Linked DNA regions of Homo sapiens. The protein of the gene in region 1 interacts with the protein of each later gene in a pairwise test. Each region holds a gene or a part of one and is shown in the gene's direction. Other genes may lie near its edges.

The links. Proteins that work in one complex are often made in the same cells at the same time.
Region 2: the proteins of CAMK2B (region 1) and MGAT5B interact in a two-hybrid assay, tested with the Homo sapiens proteins (one large-scale study listed by BioGRID).
Region 3: the proteins of CAMK2B (region 1) and RXRG interact in a two-hybrid assay, tested with the Homo sapiens proteins (one study listed by BioGRID).

The regions. Positions count from the first base shown.
Region 1 is NC_000007.14:44,216,617-44,221,812, reverse strand, and holds the end of CAMK2B (calcium/calmodulin-dependent protein kinase type II subunit beta), read left to right. Parts: intron 1-911; coding exon 912-987; coding exon of another isoform or gene 988-991; intron 992-1,102; coding exon 1,103-1,197; intron 1,198-1,518; coding exon 1,519-1,751; 3' UTR 1,752-1,753; intron 1,754-2,290; 3' UTR 2,291-4,659; downstream 4,660-5,196. UniProt on the Homo sapiens protein: Calcium/calmodulin-dependent protein kinase that functions autonomously after Ca(2+)/calmodulin-binding and autophosphorylation, and is involved in dendritic spine and synapse formation, neuronal plasticity and regulation of sarcoplasmic reticulum Ca(2+) transport in skeletal muscle.
Region 2 is NC_000017.11:76,940,447-76,945,642, forward strand, and holds part of MGAT5B (alpha-1,6-mannosylglycoprotein 6-beta-N-acetylglucosaminyltransferase B), read left to right. Parts: coding exon 1-102; intron 103-285; coding exon 286-402; intron 403-3,656; coding exon of another isoform or gene 3,657-3,728; exon of another isoform or gene 3,729-4,811; intron 4,812-5,196. UniProt on the Homo sapiens protein: Glycosyltransferase that acts on alpha-linked mannose of N-glycans and O-mannosyl glycans.
Region 3 is NC_000001.11:165,437,888-165,443,083, reverse strand, and holds part of RXRG (retinoic acid receptor RXR-gamma), read left to right. Parts: intron 1-5,196. UniProt on the Homo sapiens protein: Receptor for retinoic acid. Retinoic acid receptors bind as heterodimers to their target response elements in response to their ligands, all-trans or 9-cis retinoic acid, and regulate gene expression in various biological processes.

The DNA.
Region 1 (5,196 bases):
GTAGTTAAAGCAGCAATGCAGGCTGCCAGTGAGCGCCCCGGAGGCCAGTGAGGACCAGCATGGCTGGGTGGCCTGTTGGAATCCAAGGGGGGCGGGCAGGAGCTGCAGGCAGGCGCCCGGGAGTAGCCCGGGCATGGGGGTGCGGGGCAACAGGGATGTCTGCAGGGGTAGCATGTGGGCCCCGGACTGCAAGCAGGTGGAGCCAGCCGGATGCGGCTCCTATGAGAAAAGCGGGGAACAAGAGACCACGCTCGTTCTTCCTGCTGCGGGGACAGCCCTGGTCATCGCTCCGGGGAACCCTGCAGCCTGCGCCGCACGTGGCCGCCCCCTGCTGCTTCCTCCTCCCCGGCCTCCGGGTGGCCTTGCTGACGGCTCCTTCTCTGAGGCAGGTCTCTGCCTTCTCGCCTGGTGCCTGCACTCAGTAGCCCCCTCACCAGAGCTGCTGGGTGAAGGAAGCACTAAGAACCCAAGGCTCGGGAGGAGAGTGGGGCCGGGAAGCTGCAGGGAAGCGCAGGGCCAGGCCTGGTGGGCCCAGGGGCTGGCTCACGGGAGGGCAGGAGGGAGACTGTGGCGGACAGCACGTGGGGCCAGGAGGTGACCTCCAAGTGGATTGTGGGTGGGTTTTTTGTCCTCTTTCTGCATTTTCCAGGCATTTTGTAATGTGGATAGAATATTTCTGTTCTTCAAAAATACTTTAGTTAAGAAAAATAAGATGGAAGCTGTTGCACTTGAAAATGAGGAAGCCACTGGTGATGCAGGGGGGGCGGCGGAGAGGACCTCTTCTGCAAATAGCGGCAGGAACACGGCATGGATGCAGCTCGCGCTCCCCCAGGCCCTCCCCTGGGCTGTGTGGAGGGGTCCGGGGGGAATGGGCCAGCGCCCAGTGGTCACCTGGCCATGTCTCCCCACAGCCCGGAAGCAGGAGATCATTAAGACCACGGAGCAGCTCATCGAGGCCGTCAACAACGGTGACTTTGAGGCCTACGCGTGAGTCCCTGGGGCTGGGGGGGGGCTGTGCAGGACAAGGATGTGGGACCCTTGGGGGGGCCTGCTCAGAGTCAGGGGTCCACGGGGCCCCTCCTCACTTGGATTTGGCCCCCAGGAAAATCTGTGACCCAGGGCTGACCTCGTTTGAGCCTGAAGCACTGGGCAACCTGGTTGAAGGGATGGACTTCCACAGATTCTACTTCGAGAACCGTGAGTGAGGAAGCCCGGGTGGGCATGAGGGGGCGGTGCCCCCAGGAGAGCCTCTCGGCCCCTCCCAGGGACAGCATGGTGGCTGCCTATGGAAGCCCTGTCCCCTCTGTGCCCAGGGTTGGCCAGCCACCTCTCCCCCGCCAGAGGCCATACCCAGCCCCCAGAATCCCACTCTTGGAGGGGCCCATGCTGCTCCCAGGAGAGCCGAGCCTCCCCAATAAGGGGAGTTGAGAGAGGGAAAGGATTAGGCTGGTGGGGTGGAAGACGGGCACCAGGGCAGTCATGGTAACCCGAGACCCCCGCCCCGCCTGCTGTCCACAGTGCTGGCCAAGAACAGCAAGCCGATCCACACGACCATCCTGAACCCACACGTGCACGTCATTGGAGAGGATGCCGCCTGCATCGCTTACATCCGGCTCACGCAGTACATTGACGGGCAGGGCCGGCCCCGCACCAGCCAGTCTGAGGAGACCCGCGTGTGGCACCGCCGCGACGGCAAGTGGCAGAACGTGCACTTCCACTGCTCGGGCGCGCCTGTGGCCCCGCTGCAGTGAAGGTGAGTGTTCTGTGCTAAGTGACAGCTGGGGCAGAGGGGTGGCGGTGGTGTGAGTGGCTGCAGCCTGGGGAGGCGATGGGGAGCGGTGGGGCCTGTGCAGAGCCATGCCTGGGAAGTCCCTGAGCTTTCCTGGTGAGGCCACAGGAATGATGTCAAATTAGGGACCACGGCAGGCTGGGTGTGGCAGGCCTCCCCAGAGGACTGGGGAGCTGGTGAGGGCCTGAGCAGTCCACACTGGCCAGAGCTGGGTGGGTTGCAGGTGGATGGGCCCCGGGCAGCACAGTCCTGGGCACCATGCCCTGTTTGTGAGGACTGTTAGAGCCCCAGATGGGCGTTCCCCAGGTGGTGGGTGCAGCGGGCCCAGAGCCCAGTTTTACAGGGATAGTAGTAATTGGGTTGGGCACCTTGAACCTCTCTCCCGAGTGGGCCCTTTTCTGGACTTTAACCCTCTCTGCAGTGCCGCATGGCAGACAGCAGAGCCTGGGGGTGGATGGGAGAGGGGGCTGCTGAGGAGCTGACCCACCCGCCCCATTTCAGAGCTGCGCCCTGGTTTCGCCGGACAGAGTTGGTGTTTGGAGCCCGACTGCCCTCGGGCACACGGCCTGCCTGTCGCATGTTTGTGTCTGCCTCGTTCCCTCCCCTGGTGCCTGTGTCTGCAGAAAAACAAGACCAGATGTGATTTGTTAAAAAAAAACAAAAAAAAAAAAAAAAAAAACAAGATGACGACGACAACCACAAAAAAAATTGACATCAGATGAAATGAAAAAAAAAAAAAACAAAAAAAACTAAAGGAAGGAAAAAGCTGTAAAAATCACTGGCATTCGTGGGGCCACTCCCCACCCAAGCTCCACGTGTGTCCGTCTGTGCTCCTGGCCTCTGGGGGACCAGCTGGGACATGAACTTGTCTGCCAGGCCCCCGTCGCGTGCTGAACGGTGTTAGTTTGTAGGTAACGCACACACCCCACACCTAAGGTGTCTGCATCCTCCTGCCAACGCATGGGCTCCACGTGGTGTGCTCGCTGGCTGTCGTGACTGTCAGCTGTCTCTTGGGAGGGGCTGTGGGGGCCCGCTGGGCTGCCTCCTTTCCCGCTAGTTGTGCCTGAGAGTTGCTGTTGTTCCTGCTTTCCCTTCCCTTCCTTTCATCCCCTGAAGGGCTAGGTGTGGGTTTTCCGTGCCCGGTATCCCCACACACCCAGCACGGACAACCCTTCGGCAGAGCCCAGGCCGGCCCCTCACCCCCTGGAGTATTGAAACTGGAGTCCCGTCCCCAAGGCCTTCAGAGATGCCCCTACACACCCAGGGCTCCAGCTCTGGTCCTTCTGGGGGAGTAAAGTGCAAAGAGGGGCACAGCTTAGTTTTGGGCCTCTCGCCGAGCAAGAGACAGCACTGCTGGCTACAGCTCCAACACAGCCAGCTGTGGCAAGAGGACTCTGCCTGGGCTGGCCCCCCTCCTGTGTGAGGTGTCTGTCCCTTCTCTGCTGGCCAGCAGCAGATGCACTGGCAGCTCCCAACCCTGTTTCCGCCCCTCGGCCCTCCCCCAGCCTGTTCGGCTTCTCTGCAGCCCGCAAGGGGGAGCAGACTTTTGACAAAGGACTGCGGGCCTCGCTCAAGTCCCTGAGCCCCCAGCTGAAGCTGGGAGGGGAGGCCAGGCTTTGTGTCTGGGCATATTCGTCTGCTGATGGGGTTTGGGGAAGCCTGGGGCTTGGGGTTTGGTCGGGTGGTGCAGCTAGTGGCAGAGCGGGATCAGAGGTGGTGGCTGCCCAGCTTCTGGGCTGAGACAAGGGTCTGTGCAGGGGTTTACTGAAGTGGGAGTGCCTTTGGAATCTGGGCCGGGAGCAGAAGGGAGCAAAAGCTACAGTGGGAGCCAGCCTAGGGCACATGGGAGGCGTGAGGGCAGTGCTGCCCGTGCAGTGTCAGGTGTGCCAGTGCCTTGGCGGGCTGCAGTGCGTGTGAGGGCACCTTCTAGGTGGGCCAGGGATGCAGCTATGGAGATAAGGCGGGCTGGGGACAGAAACAGGTGGGCACAGGGCCCAGGACACCAGCGGATGGAGGGCAGGGTCTAGCCCTGTGCTCCTGAGCGTCGGCTGCCTGGGTTCGAGGCGGTGGGTCCCCGGCCCCTTGTGATGGTGTGTACCATGGGGGAGCTCGGGGACAGGGCAAGCCCGAGCATGGTGGGGCTGCAGGGTGGGTCTGAAGCCAGGTTGGGTGGGGGTGGTCACAAGCCCTGACTGCAGAGGGTCAGGGGCTCCTGCCCCAGTGCCTGCCCACTTTCAATTCACATTGTTTTCAACAAGGATTTTCTTTATCTTCCCCTACAAATCAAGCCAAGGGAGGGGCACAGAATGGGGAACAGGACACAGGATCCTAAACTCCAAGGGGACTGTCCACCGATGAACACTCAGAGTGGACACCATCTTCCGTCCACGCTGTGCCCAGGACAGCTGTCCCCATCCATGAACACAGGGTAAACATCTGCCGGGCTCCGCACCAGTGGCTCCCTGGGCCATGGGACAGCGGCAGGGCTCACCACGGACAGCACGTGGCCCAGCAGCCGGCCACCCTGGCGTCCTGGGGCCTCCTCCCCTCCTCTCCCTCTCACCTTGTCACCTCCACGGAGCTGCCTGTCTGGGATAATTTGGGGATTTTTTTTCTGGGGGATAATTCTTTTGCATGACCCCTAAAGAGCAAGCCACACCGGTCTGCTAGCTAGGTGTCCGCGGTGTGGTGGTGGCGGCCGCTGGCCAGCGCTGCAAGGGGTCGGCTGCCCACGGTGCTGGCTGGCCTCCCCTCCTCTCTCTTTTTGCTGAGTTTCATTGTCTTTTCTTTCTGAGCCTTGTAAGTGTACAAAAATTATTCTTATTTTGTTCTGTCTCGGGAAACTGCAAATAAAAGAAAAACAGGACAAACTGCTTCAAGTGCAGCTGGGTGCTTTAGCTGGAATCCTGCCGACCTCCTGCGCCAAAATACAGACTCAAGCCCGGTCCCTGGCCAAGACCCTACTTGGGCCCCTCCTCCAATGAAAGGTAGTGCTATGGGAGCCCTGAGCTGGCCCTGACAGTCCTGAGCCCCTCTAGGGTGAACGGCTCACCCCAGGTAGGGCACTAGTCATAGATCATAGCTCTACCAGCTGTCTCCACCTCTTCCTCTGGTCCTCTGAAGTCTTCTGGGCCCAGCGCTGTCCACCCTGAATGCTGGAACTGAAACTGGATCCCAGCCCCCAACACCCCTGACCTCTCCATTCACCCCCGGTGGCCGCTAAGGATGTGGCCAGGGCAGCCTCTGGGCAGGAAGGAGCCCCAGGACCAAGACCTCTGGCTGTCCTGCTGTTTCCTTCCGCCCCTGCTACATGTATTGGCTATTCTGGATGCTGAGGACACACAGTGACCACAGAGCCGGGCTCCACCCCAGTGGATTATGCAGACAGATGGCACGCAGGCCTGTGT
Region 2 (5,196 bases), on another chromosome or scaffold:
GAGGCCATCGCCAATGGTTGCATCTTCCTGCAGTCCCGCTTCAGCCCGCCCCACAGCTCCCTCAACCACGAGTTCTTCCGAGGCAAGCCCACCTCCAGAGAGGTGAGTGGAAAGCATCCTGGTCCCCGATCAGGAGGGGCCGGGACAGAGACCCCTGCAGGTCCTGGAAGAGGCAGACTGAGATGTGGGGCAAAAGGAGATAGGACAAGTGTATGGGGTACCTTTCTTTGTCCCTGTCCCACTGGCAGGCACGGGGGGCATCTGCAATCTCTGTACCCTTGCCAGGTGTTCTCCCAGCATCCCTACGCGGAGAACTTCATCGGCAAGCCCCACGTGTGGACAGTCGACTACAACAACTCAGAGGAGTTTGAAGCAGCCATCAAGGCCATTATGAGAACTCAGGTGAGAGCAGCCACATACAGTTGAGACCCCCCACTAGTCCACACTGCTGGTCTTCACTCTGATTAGAAAACGGTGCCCCCCTCTGGGTGAGTTCAGACTTGCAGGCCTGGGTTGGCAAAGGTGTCCATCCCTCCCCTGGTCAGACACAGCCCTGAGCCAGGGCATGTGGATTGGAGAATGGAATGGGGGATCCCATTCATCTACTCAGGTGTGATGTGTGGGGAATGCCTTTGTGCAGTGAGCAACCTGCACAACCTTACATGGCAGCCCTGGATCTCAAATTGTTTATGGAGCACTTTTGAGGGCCAGGTGCTAACTGAATGTTTTCACGATGGATGTGTGGAGGTTCTTGAAACTGCTGCAGGTGTGGCTTTGCAGCCTTTACACAGCACATTTCAAAATATAATGTGCATACAGAGCGTCTGTTAATGCGGGGCAACGCTTCGAGTAGCAAGGGGGCAGAACACCCTGGGTCTCCAGCGAACGTGGGTGCTGGTGTGTGTAGGTGCACATGTGTGGGCTGGGTGAGAGTGAGGAGGGGCTTGTGCCTGATGCTCATCTCCGCAGTGGACATGTTTGTGGCTTTTGATCGTGCCTTGTGCTTGGCTGGTTCCTTCATTCTGGGGAGGCTCAGACCTGGTGAACGAGAGAGCCTCCTCTCACTATGGTTCTCCTGGATCCCCTTCTTGCTATAGCTCAGATGATAGGCTGAGCAAAAATAATTGCTCCAGGCCGGGAATGGTGGCTCCCGCCTGTAATCCAGCACTTTGGGAGGCCGAGGCGGGCAGCTCACTTGAGGCCAGGAGTTTGAGAGCAGCCTGGCCAACATGGCAGGTTTCTCAAAGTTAGGGACTGTCTGAGATTGGATTCCTCCAGGAAGTAACATGAAAACAGGGATTTTAGCAGTAGCTTATTTGGGAGGCAACCCCAGGAAGCAGGCACGGAGGTGCCAGGTGAGGCAGGGTGTGTATCAGCAGGTGGCACCTGGAGCTCATCACCACGGGGGCCTCTGCAAGATGGGGTAGGTCACATCCCAGAGCTGTCCTGCCCGAGGAGAAAGAGGCTAGGGTAGGTATCCTCCTCTTCCCATCCATCTGTGGCTGAGGGTGGTGCCTGGGATGCCAGTTCCTGACACTTTTGGCCTGCACACAGATGGGCTCGGCAGGCCAGAGACAGCCTTGAGGTGGAGTCACCGGTGACGGAGGGTGGGGCGCTGATGGCCCTGCTGCAGGGAGAGGTTGTGTGACCTTGTAATGCTGGATCCTAGCAAAGCACCGGCCTAGACAGAGTGGGGAGGGATAAAAAGCTCCCTTGCTAGCTCTCAACGCAGTGTTGTCCCCTGTCCTGGGCTGGTGGCTTAAGTTCTGGCAAGGCCTTGTAGAGCAAAAGCAACTAGAGGCCAGGAGCAGGGGCTCACACCTGTAATCCCTGCACTTTGGGAGGCCGAAGCGGGCGGATCACTTGAGGCCAGGAGTTTGAGAGCAGCCTGGCCAACATGGTGAAACCCCATCTCTACTAAAAATACAAAAAGAAATTTAGACAGGCGTGGTGGCACACGACTGTGATCCACCAAGAGGCTGAGGCAGGAGAATCGCTTGAACCTGGGAGGTGGAGGTTACAGTGAGCCGAGATCATGCCACTGCACTCCAGCCTCGGTGACAGAGCGAGACTCCATCTCAAAAAAATTTTAAAAAGATAAATAGGAACTTGGCCCCTTGGCCACGCCCTAGGAAGAGGGCCAGGTATTTGACTGGTACCAGCTTATAGGCTTAAATGGGGCTAGAAGTACCAGTGCCAGGAAGGAGGCCTTAGGTAGGGACCTCAGTGCATAGGAAAGAAGAGTGAAGGGGGTTAACTGATTAATTTCACTGCTGGAAACTGACCAACCCCAGCCCCCTGCACGGGGAAGCTGGCAACAAGGCGTACAGGTAGGCAAGGGGGCTCCTGTCACCCCACAGTCTCCTCCAGCTTCTTCTCCCACTTCTCCACCCACCTCCCTCTGCTCTCCTCCCTCTCCCCTCCCCTTGCAAACCAATCCTCTAAGACTTCTCCTGCAGAGGGGCTCGGGCAAGGCTGGGGAGGGGGACTACATAGACTTTTCCAATGTGGGGAGCAGCGTTTGGCCCAACCTCCAAGACACATTGTTAAGCTAAAAGAGCGAGACACTCCACCTTGGGGATAACTTGCCCCCCCGGGAGGCCCAGAAAGCGGGGTCGGGGGAGGGCTGTGTGCATGAAGGTGCTGCGATAGTCGCGGGTATTTCTGGTGGGACACACAAGAAATTGATAACTGGGGGAAGGACTGACTGTCTGCGGTGAGAGGAAACTTCCCTTTCATTGCTTTCCTGTTTGGTTTTTTTTTACATGAACATCTGTTTAATTTTGTTAATTAGTTAATTAAAAAATAACAATTACAAAAGGATTAAGGAAGCAAGGTATTGCAAATCTGACCAGCTGAGATTTGTGCTGGGCCCCAAACCAACGGAGGCCCCTCTGCCTTCAGACCCCTCCCTTCTGTGGGCCCCACCCCTCCGCATAACAGCTCACCCCCTCAGCTCACAGCAGCTCAAAAACATTTATGTGCCCAAGAGTCACCCGGGGGGAGGGCCTTAAATGCAGATCCTCGAGCCTATCCCGCACCTTCCCATTTAATAGGACCCAGCTTCGCGTGGGAATCTGCATTTTAAACAAGAACTCTGGGTAATTCTAATCTTCCCATTTTATTATTTTTTTAAAATTTTCTTTTTATATTATTTGAATAGAGATGGGGTGGGGTGGGGGGGGGGTCTCATTTTGTTGCCCAGGCCAGTCTCGAACTCCTGGGCACAAGCAATCCTCCCGCCTCGGCCTCCCAAAGAGCTGGGATTACAGGCATGAGCCACCATGCCCGGCCTAATAATTCTATTTTAGAAAACAGATTTAGGGACAGCTGGTGGAGGCTGAGAGCAAATGAGGGCTGCCATCATGGGGAGTGGCTTGTTCTGCAAGTCATGTGGCCTTTTACAGGGAGAGGGAGGGAGGAGCGGCCAGGATGGGGAGAAAGAGGTGAGAAGAAGAGGTGAGAAGAGGGAGGTCTAAGACACAGCGAGCCGGCCCCGGGCCTGACAGCCATGGAAAACCAGGGCCCGGCACCCCTTCTGTGTCTCTGCACCTCCCTGGGTTTGCCTGTGGACATCTCTGTGTCCAGAGCAAGGCCATTCAAGGTGATGCCAACACTGGCTTCCGCTGCACCCCTCCCTGCTGTCATTCCCGCAGGCCAGCAGTTCCCAGGCAGGATCAGCACCTGTCACTCTGTCGAGACTGATTAGGGCGCACACCTGTAATTAGACCTAATGGGGGTAATTTCCAGGCCAGGCAGGCTGGCTCCTCCGGCAGGAGATTCGTGGCAGGCGGAACGTCGTCGTCGTCGTTGGCCGTGAGTGTTTGCTTCACACAGGGACCTTTGAATTATCTTGTGACAAGGGCTTACAGACACAGGAGCAAGAGTAACTCAGAGATTTGCTGTCACGGAGCCGGGGAGCGGCATTTGGAGGGGAAAGCTCTTCTCTGGGGAGTTTTATTTATAACCTGAGAGTGAAGCCTTGTCCCCGCAAGACCCCCAGAAGTGTGTGGGGCTCAGAGGCTCCCAGGACTTCGTCATGAGTGTTTAGGGAACCAGCTGGGGCAGCAACTGGCTGCCAGGGTCTTCTTGGGCCATCGGCTCGGGAATGAGAGCAGGTCGGGACAGGGCTGTGCAGAGCACGGGGCTTCAAGGCTGGGCTGGGGATGGGACCTGCAGATTCTCCGGGACTTCGAACTTGCCCCAGCGTTGAGAATACCCACGCACAGTGCAGGGGGACGTCAGTGCTGGGGCAATGTCCGGCTTCAAGGACATCAGTGACTGCCGCTTCCCTGGGACCCTTGAGTGTCAGGGATGTCCCCTTGGCCAGAGGCCCCAGGACGAGTCTCCTAAGAAGTGGGGTACACAGAAGGCAGGACCGAGCTTGGCGCAGTTGGACTTTCTAGCACCACCCAACGCTGATGAGGAAGAAAGGAGGTGGTTGCAGGCTTGAGTCAAACAGTTAGATTTCACCCACTGGCTAAAGACGGGAAAGCGGCCTCATTAGGAGATGGGCTGGGCCAGGTCAGGTGCCACCAGGCATGGTGGGGTGGGGAGGTTGAAGCCTAAAACAGACCTTTCTCTGAGTCCGGGATGGCTCCTTCCTGAGTCCTGACTGCTGCCCCTGCCCTTTCAGGTCAGTGATTTTCTCCACGGTGGCTCTGCACTGGGCCTGAGAAGGTTAATGGAACAGGAAGGGGTTGGTTGGTTAAGAAGTCGGGGGGAGGCAGGAGTACCCCCTTACTCCTCTGTCACTCTTCCCTCCACTCCCCTGGTTTCTTTTACCCAAGCTACTGCATGCATCTGCCCACAGGACAGGTTGCTGTGTGACTATTAGATATTTATTTATTTATTTATTTTTGAGACAAAGTCTCACTCTGTTGCCCAGGCTGGAGTGCAATGGTGCAGTCTCAGCTCACTGCAACCTCCACCTCCCAGGTTCAAGTGATTCTCCTGCCTCAGCCTCCCAAGTAGCTGGGATTACAGGCACCTGCCACCACGCCTAGCTAATTTTTTTTGTATTAGTAGAGCCGGGTTTCACCACGTTGGCCAGGCTGGTCTTGAACTCCTGACCTCAGGCGATCCGCCCACCTCGGCCTCCCAAAGTGCTGGGATTACAGGCATGAGCCACCGTGCCGGGCTAACTATTAGATATTTAGACAGACAACCTGTGGCCTCTGTTTGGGGGTTTGTGCC
Region 3 (5,196 bases), on another chromosome or scaffold:
ATCTTAGGCTCTCATCTTATAGATGTGTAAACTGAGGCTCAAAAGAAGGCAGGGACTAGTCCAAATTTATATGGGGCTGAGCTGCAGAACACTTCCAGAAAAGCCCTTACTCAAATTTATAATATTGTTGCTTTAATATAGTGAAAAGAGCACCAGGAGGAAGAGGAGGCAGGAAGAGGTAGTGTGCTGAGTTTGGTTCCCAATTTTTCACCTAGTAGCTGTGTGACCTTAGGCAAGCTAGTGAACCTCTCTGAGCCTTAGCACCTTTCTCTCTAAAATGGGATTTATAATCTCATCCTTAGAGTATTGTGAAAATTAAATGAGTTAGCATGTGAAAAACAGCTGCTATAGTGTTGTCCATATATTTGCTACCTAATACAATATTTTCTTCCCCTCTATTTTACTCAGAGACTAACATGCAAAATAGTTAAAAATCAGACATTATTGTAAAATAATAAATAAGGAATCTGGGAAAATAAAATTAAATCCACAAAGACCCTCATATTTTGCTGGCATAGATTTTCATAATTGTGGGGGCTCTGATATTTAGCGTAATTAGATTTCAGATAGAAGTAAACACAATGGTTCAGCTATGGAAGGAAATAGTTCAGTATAGTATAGGGAACTTGAGGGGAAAGGGTCATGTAGGTTGTCTACATGTCTCCTGTAAAGCTACTTTTCTTTGTCATTCTTGAGGGAGGAGAAGAATTATTTTGTTTAGTTCTGTTGAGGTTTTCCATTTTGTTGGCATGTGCCAGTTAAGAGGAGGCCTAAATGCTGAGCCAAAGGACTCTGCCCCCGTCTGCAGGGAGGTCTGTTTGAGAACTTTCTGTGATGAGGGAGAGGGACAGAGGACTCACAAGCAGGCACAGGGGAAAGCAGGATTAGAGTGGACGTCACCTTTGGCCTCTAACCTCCCCTGCCACAGTGCAGCAAGTTGCACGGCACTTATTAAAATACTTGGTGTATAACCCCCTGCCCTGTTACATATTAGCACATGGAATTACAGAGGGCCCCATGATTTGTATAAGAATCTCCAGGGAAGCAAAGTCACCTTTTGGAAATAACACCTGAGATTTGTGTCTGGGACCATGCTTACCAGATGTCAGAGCATCATCTGATCAGTGAGCAACAGATTGCTCAAACTGGCCAAAGTGTGGTGGCTACGTGGTGGCTCCACAAAGGTGCCCAATCTCCCAGCTTTGGGCCCTACCATGTAATGATGAGAGAAACCTTCTCTTCTCCTTCTCTGCCAAGTCCAGGGTTTGCCAGCTGCTCAGTAATAGGTTTGTTTTTCTGGGATGAGACAGTTGCTGCCTCTTAGAAGATGGCAAAACAAAGCCTGTAATCCCCCCCATCCAATTGTGCAGTAATCCTCAGGGTGAGAAGGAGATCAGGGAGAGAGAGGACTTCTCTCATTTCATTTAACAAACACACTGTAACACTAATGCTCGCTACTATTGTAAGCACTTTACCAGCCTCGGCTCATGTAATCCTCATAACAACCCTAGGAGTAGGTACTGTTACCATTGTTCTCGTACTCCTTTTAGAGACAAAGAAACAGAGGAATTGAGAGGTGAAATAACTTGCTTAAGGTCTTATAGCTAGAAAATGGCACAGCCAGGGATTGAACCCAGGCAGACTAGCTCCCAGAGTTCACACTGCTGAGCTGCCTCTCACAGCTTCTGTGAGTGACACAGTTGCTCTGCAAAGCCAGGGGCAGCAGCACACCCCCAGGGAGCTCCCGGTGCTCCAATACAACCTCAGATATGCAGCCTCAGCACTGACTGGTTGTTGCAGACCCAGTGGACTGGCCATTGAGGAATAAGCCATGGGATAGGTTAAGAGCAACGGTGATCTCTGCAGAATTAATTGGTGGCTTCCCTTGGGTACATACTTATTTGCAAGAGTCCTGTCCAACTGACCCTGACCATTCATGTAGAATAGTTGCTTTCACTTGAAAATAGCCATAGAGAAGGGGTTGAGTTGGACCTGCTTGTATGTGTGCGTGTGCACATGTGTGTATATGCTAGAACATATTTTTCCCCTCCACAGATATGTGGGTGGCTAATTGGAACCTATCATGGGCATAAGTGGTTAAGGTTTATGTGGAAAGGAGTAACTGTTTATGAGATTTAGGAAGGAACATATTTCGTATAAACTATTTTCTAAAACATTTACAATCTCACCAAGAGATAGAGAGCTGAATAGCAACTGGGGGAAGAAATTGTGCAAAGAGAATCTAAATGCCCCACCTCTTCCTTCCCCTCATTATGAAGCTTCTAGGTCTGCAGAGAACTTAGCCACCAGCATTGGATCGCGGGTGTGCCAGGGGCTCCCAGAGGAAGCTGGTGTTTTCTCCTCTTTTTAAAAGTAGAAGACACAGAGGCCCAGGGAATGAAGTTAATTTTCTAGAATGCATGGGCTTTGGTGGCTCTCATGAGATTGACTCAGCCCTGGCTCAGTGATCCTCAGAAAAAAGTGAAAATACAGGTTGAGTATCCCTAATCCAAGCATCTAAAATCTGAAATGCTTCAAAATCCAGAACTTTTTGAATGCCAAAATGATGCTCAAAGGAAATGCTCGTTGGAGCATTTTGGATTTCAGATTTCTGGATTATAGATGCTCAATTGGTAAGTATAATGCAAATATTCCAAAATAAAAAAAAATCCTAAATCCAAAACACTTCTGGTGCTAAGCATTTTGGATAAGAGATACTTAACCTGTATCAACTCGTTTCATAACTAAAACACCACTTTAAGGTCGGTAGTTTTATTACCCCCATTATACAGATGTAAAAACTGGGGGACAGAGAAATTAATAATTTGCCAAAGGGAACTTGGCTAATAAATGATAAAAGTGGCATTTGAATATGAGGAAAAGCAGCAGATCTGGATTTTAATCCCAGCTCTACCATGTACTATACTGTACTACTCTGTAAATTCTTACAGCAGTTACCCAGCACAGACCTTCCTGCCCCTTCCCAATTCAATACTTGGCCTCTCCCAGGATTTTGACCCTGGCCTTTCTCACTAGAACACTCCACATCTTGACTCTATCTCTTCACAATTCAACCCCTAGTTTGGGTTCCCTTCCTCAGGGCTCCCAGCCCAGCCTAATCTTCTTCTCCCTCCTCTTTCCACATAACAGCCACTCAGACACCAGGGATTAGCTAATATGCATTTCTTATATTTGAATTATTATCAGCATATTCAAGGGGACTTTCCTATAAACATTTAGGCTGCACAATCACCCTGAGATGGAATGGGAAGGTATTTTATAACTGTTTTACTGGTGCAAAGCTTTACATTTTAACCGATGTAGAAAACAAGATGTTAGACATTAAATTTCCAGTGAATGGGGAGCAGAGAGAAGCTTTCTTCTGATGGGAAGGAAACCTTCTCTGCTATGGAAGCCCTTTCTGGCTTCCTCAGTGGGGAAAAATCAAGGAATGTGTTGGAGAGTGGAGAGCATGTAGAAGAGGCCCTCCTTCTGCCCCCAGAGGCTCAGGCCTCTCAGCCTCTCAGTGGGAATGTGAGAATGAAAGCATGCATTAGCTGATGGGTTGACGCTGCTGCATGCTTCACGCAACCCCAGTTCGGACCAGCTGGCTAGCCTTTCGAAGCCGCACAGGGCAGTTCCACCTGGATTCATGTAGCCCCCAGAGAAGGGCTGATGAGCTGCTCAGGGTGGGAGCTGGGGTTGCTTCCGGTGCTTGAAGGAAGGGGGAGGGAGAGAGTGGCATCCCTGCCTCTCTCCCTCTCCTCCACCCCCCTCCTCCCCTCGCTCCCACTCCTCCCATCTTCCTCCACCCCCGCCCCCCTCCCCTAAAATCTGTAATGATGGAGGTAGTGAAAAGCAGGGAAAGATTGATAATCAGCCTCATTATTACCAGCATTATATATAATTATAGCAAAACCTCACTCATTTGGATCAATTGAGAGAAAAATCAGTCTAAATTCGTGACAAGTTGGCAGATTACTTTTAAATTACAATTTTATTACTTCTAAGTAACACATGTGAACAGTTTGTGTTTCAAGTACCACAAGCTAATGGTTACTCAGTGGGGATTTTAGAAAACCTGCTTTAAAAGATTCTTTTGTAATTAACACCCCGTTAATATGCCAATGTGCTCCTTCTATGCTTTTTAAATTGCTTGAAAACATATGTATCTTAAATAGGCTTAACATTTCTACCATCTTATTTGCTTAACAAACCTTTTTTATTATTATTTTGTGAATGAACAAATACAAACTAGTTTATACCATGACCAGTTTAGTCACCACTCTGAATTAATTATGTTGTAAATTAATAAGACCATGTTGGTTGTTTTTGTTTAGAAATCAGACTTTTAGAACTTGAAGAACCACCTCATTTTATAGAAGAGAGGTTGAGAGACTTGCCCAAGGCCATATAGGCAAAAACAGCAGGTCTTCTGGCCCCTGGGTCCAAGTTTATTCCGTCTGCTAGATAATGCCTTACATTCCTAAAACTCTTTATGAATATGTGCTATTTATTTCCATACCAATCATTGGGTTATCTGTCAAAAAATATTTGGTGAGTGTCTATTCTGTGCCAAGCCGTGTGCTTAATCCCCATATAATGGGGATAATAAAACTACGGACCTTAAAGTGGTGTTGTAGTTATGAAATGAGTTGATGCAAGTTAAGTATCCCTTATCCAAAATGCTTAACACCAGAAGTGTTTTGGATTTGGGATTTTTTTTTTATTTTGGAATATTTGCCTTATACTTACCAATTGAGCATCTATAATCCAAAAATCTGAAATCCAAAATGCTCCAATTAGCATTTCCTTTGAGCATGATATTGGCATTCAAAAAGTTCTGGATTTTGAAGCATTTCAGATTTTAGAGGCTTGGATTAGGGATACTCAACCTGTATTTTCACTTTTTTTCTGAGGATCGCTGAGCCAGGGCTGAGTCAATCTCAGCACAACAGATAGAGGGGCCCCTCCTGGAGGCCACCGTCTATTTCATTCAAACTTCAAACTGACAGTGTAGTCCGTAAGGCGGAAATTATTCCCATTAGACAGATTAGGAAACTGAGGTTTAGAGTGATAAAGTGGCCCTTTTAAGGCCTGCTGCAAATTATTATAGATCTAGAATTTGAGTCTAGTCTAGCAGAATTTCTGTGAACATTTCTGCATATAATGAATGACATTTTGCTTGCACACCAC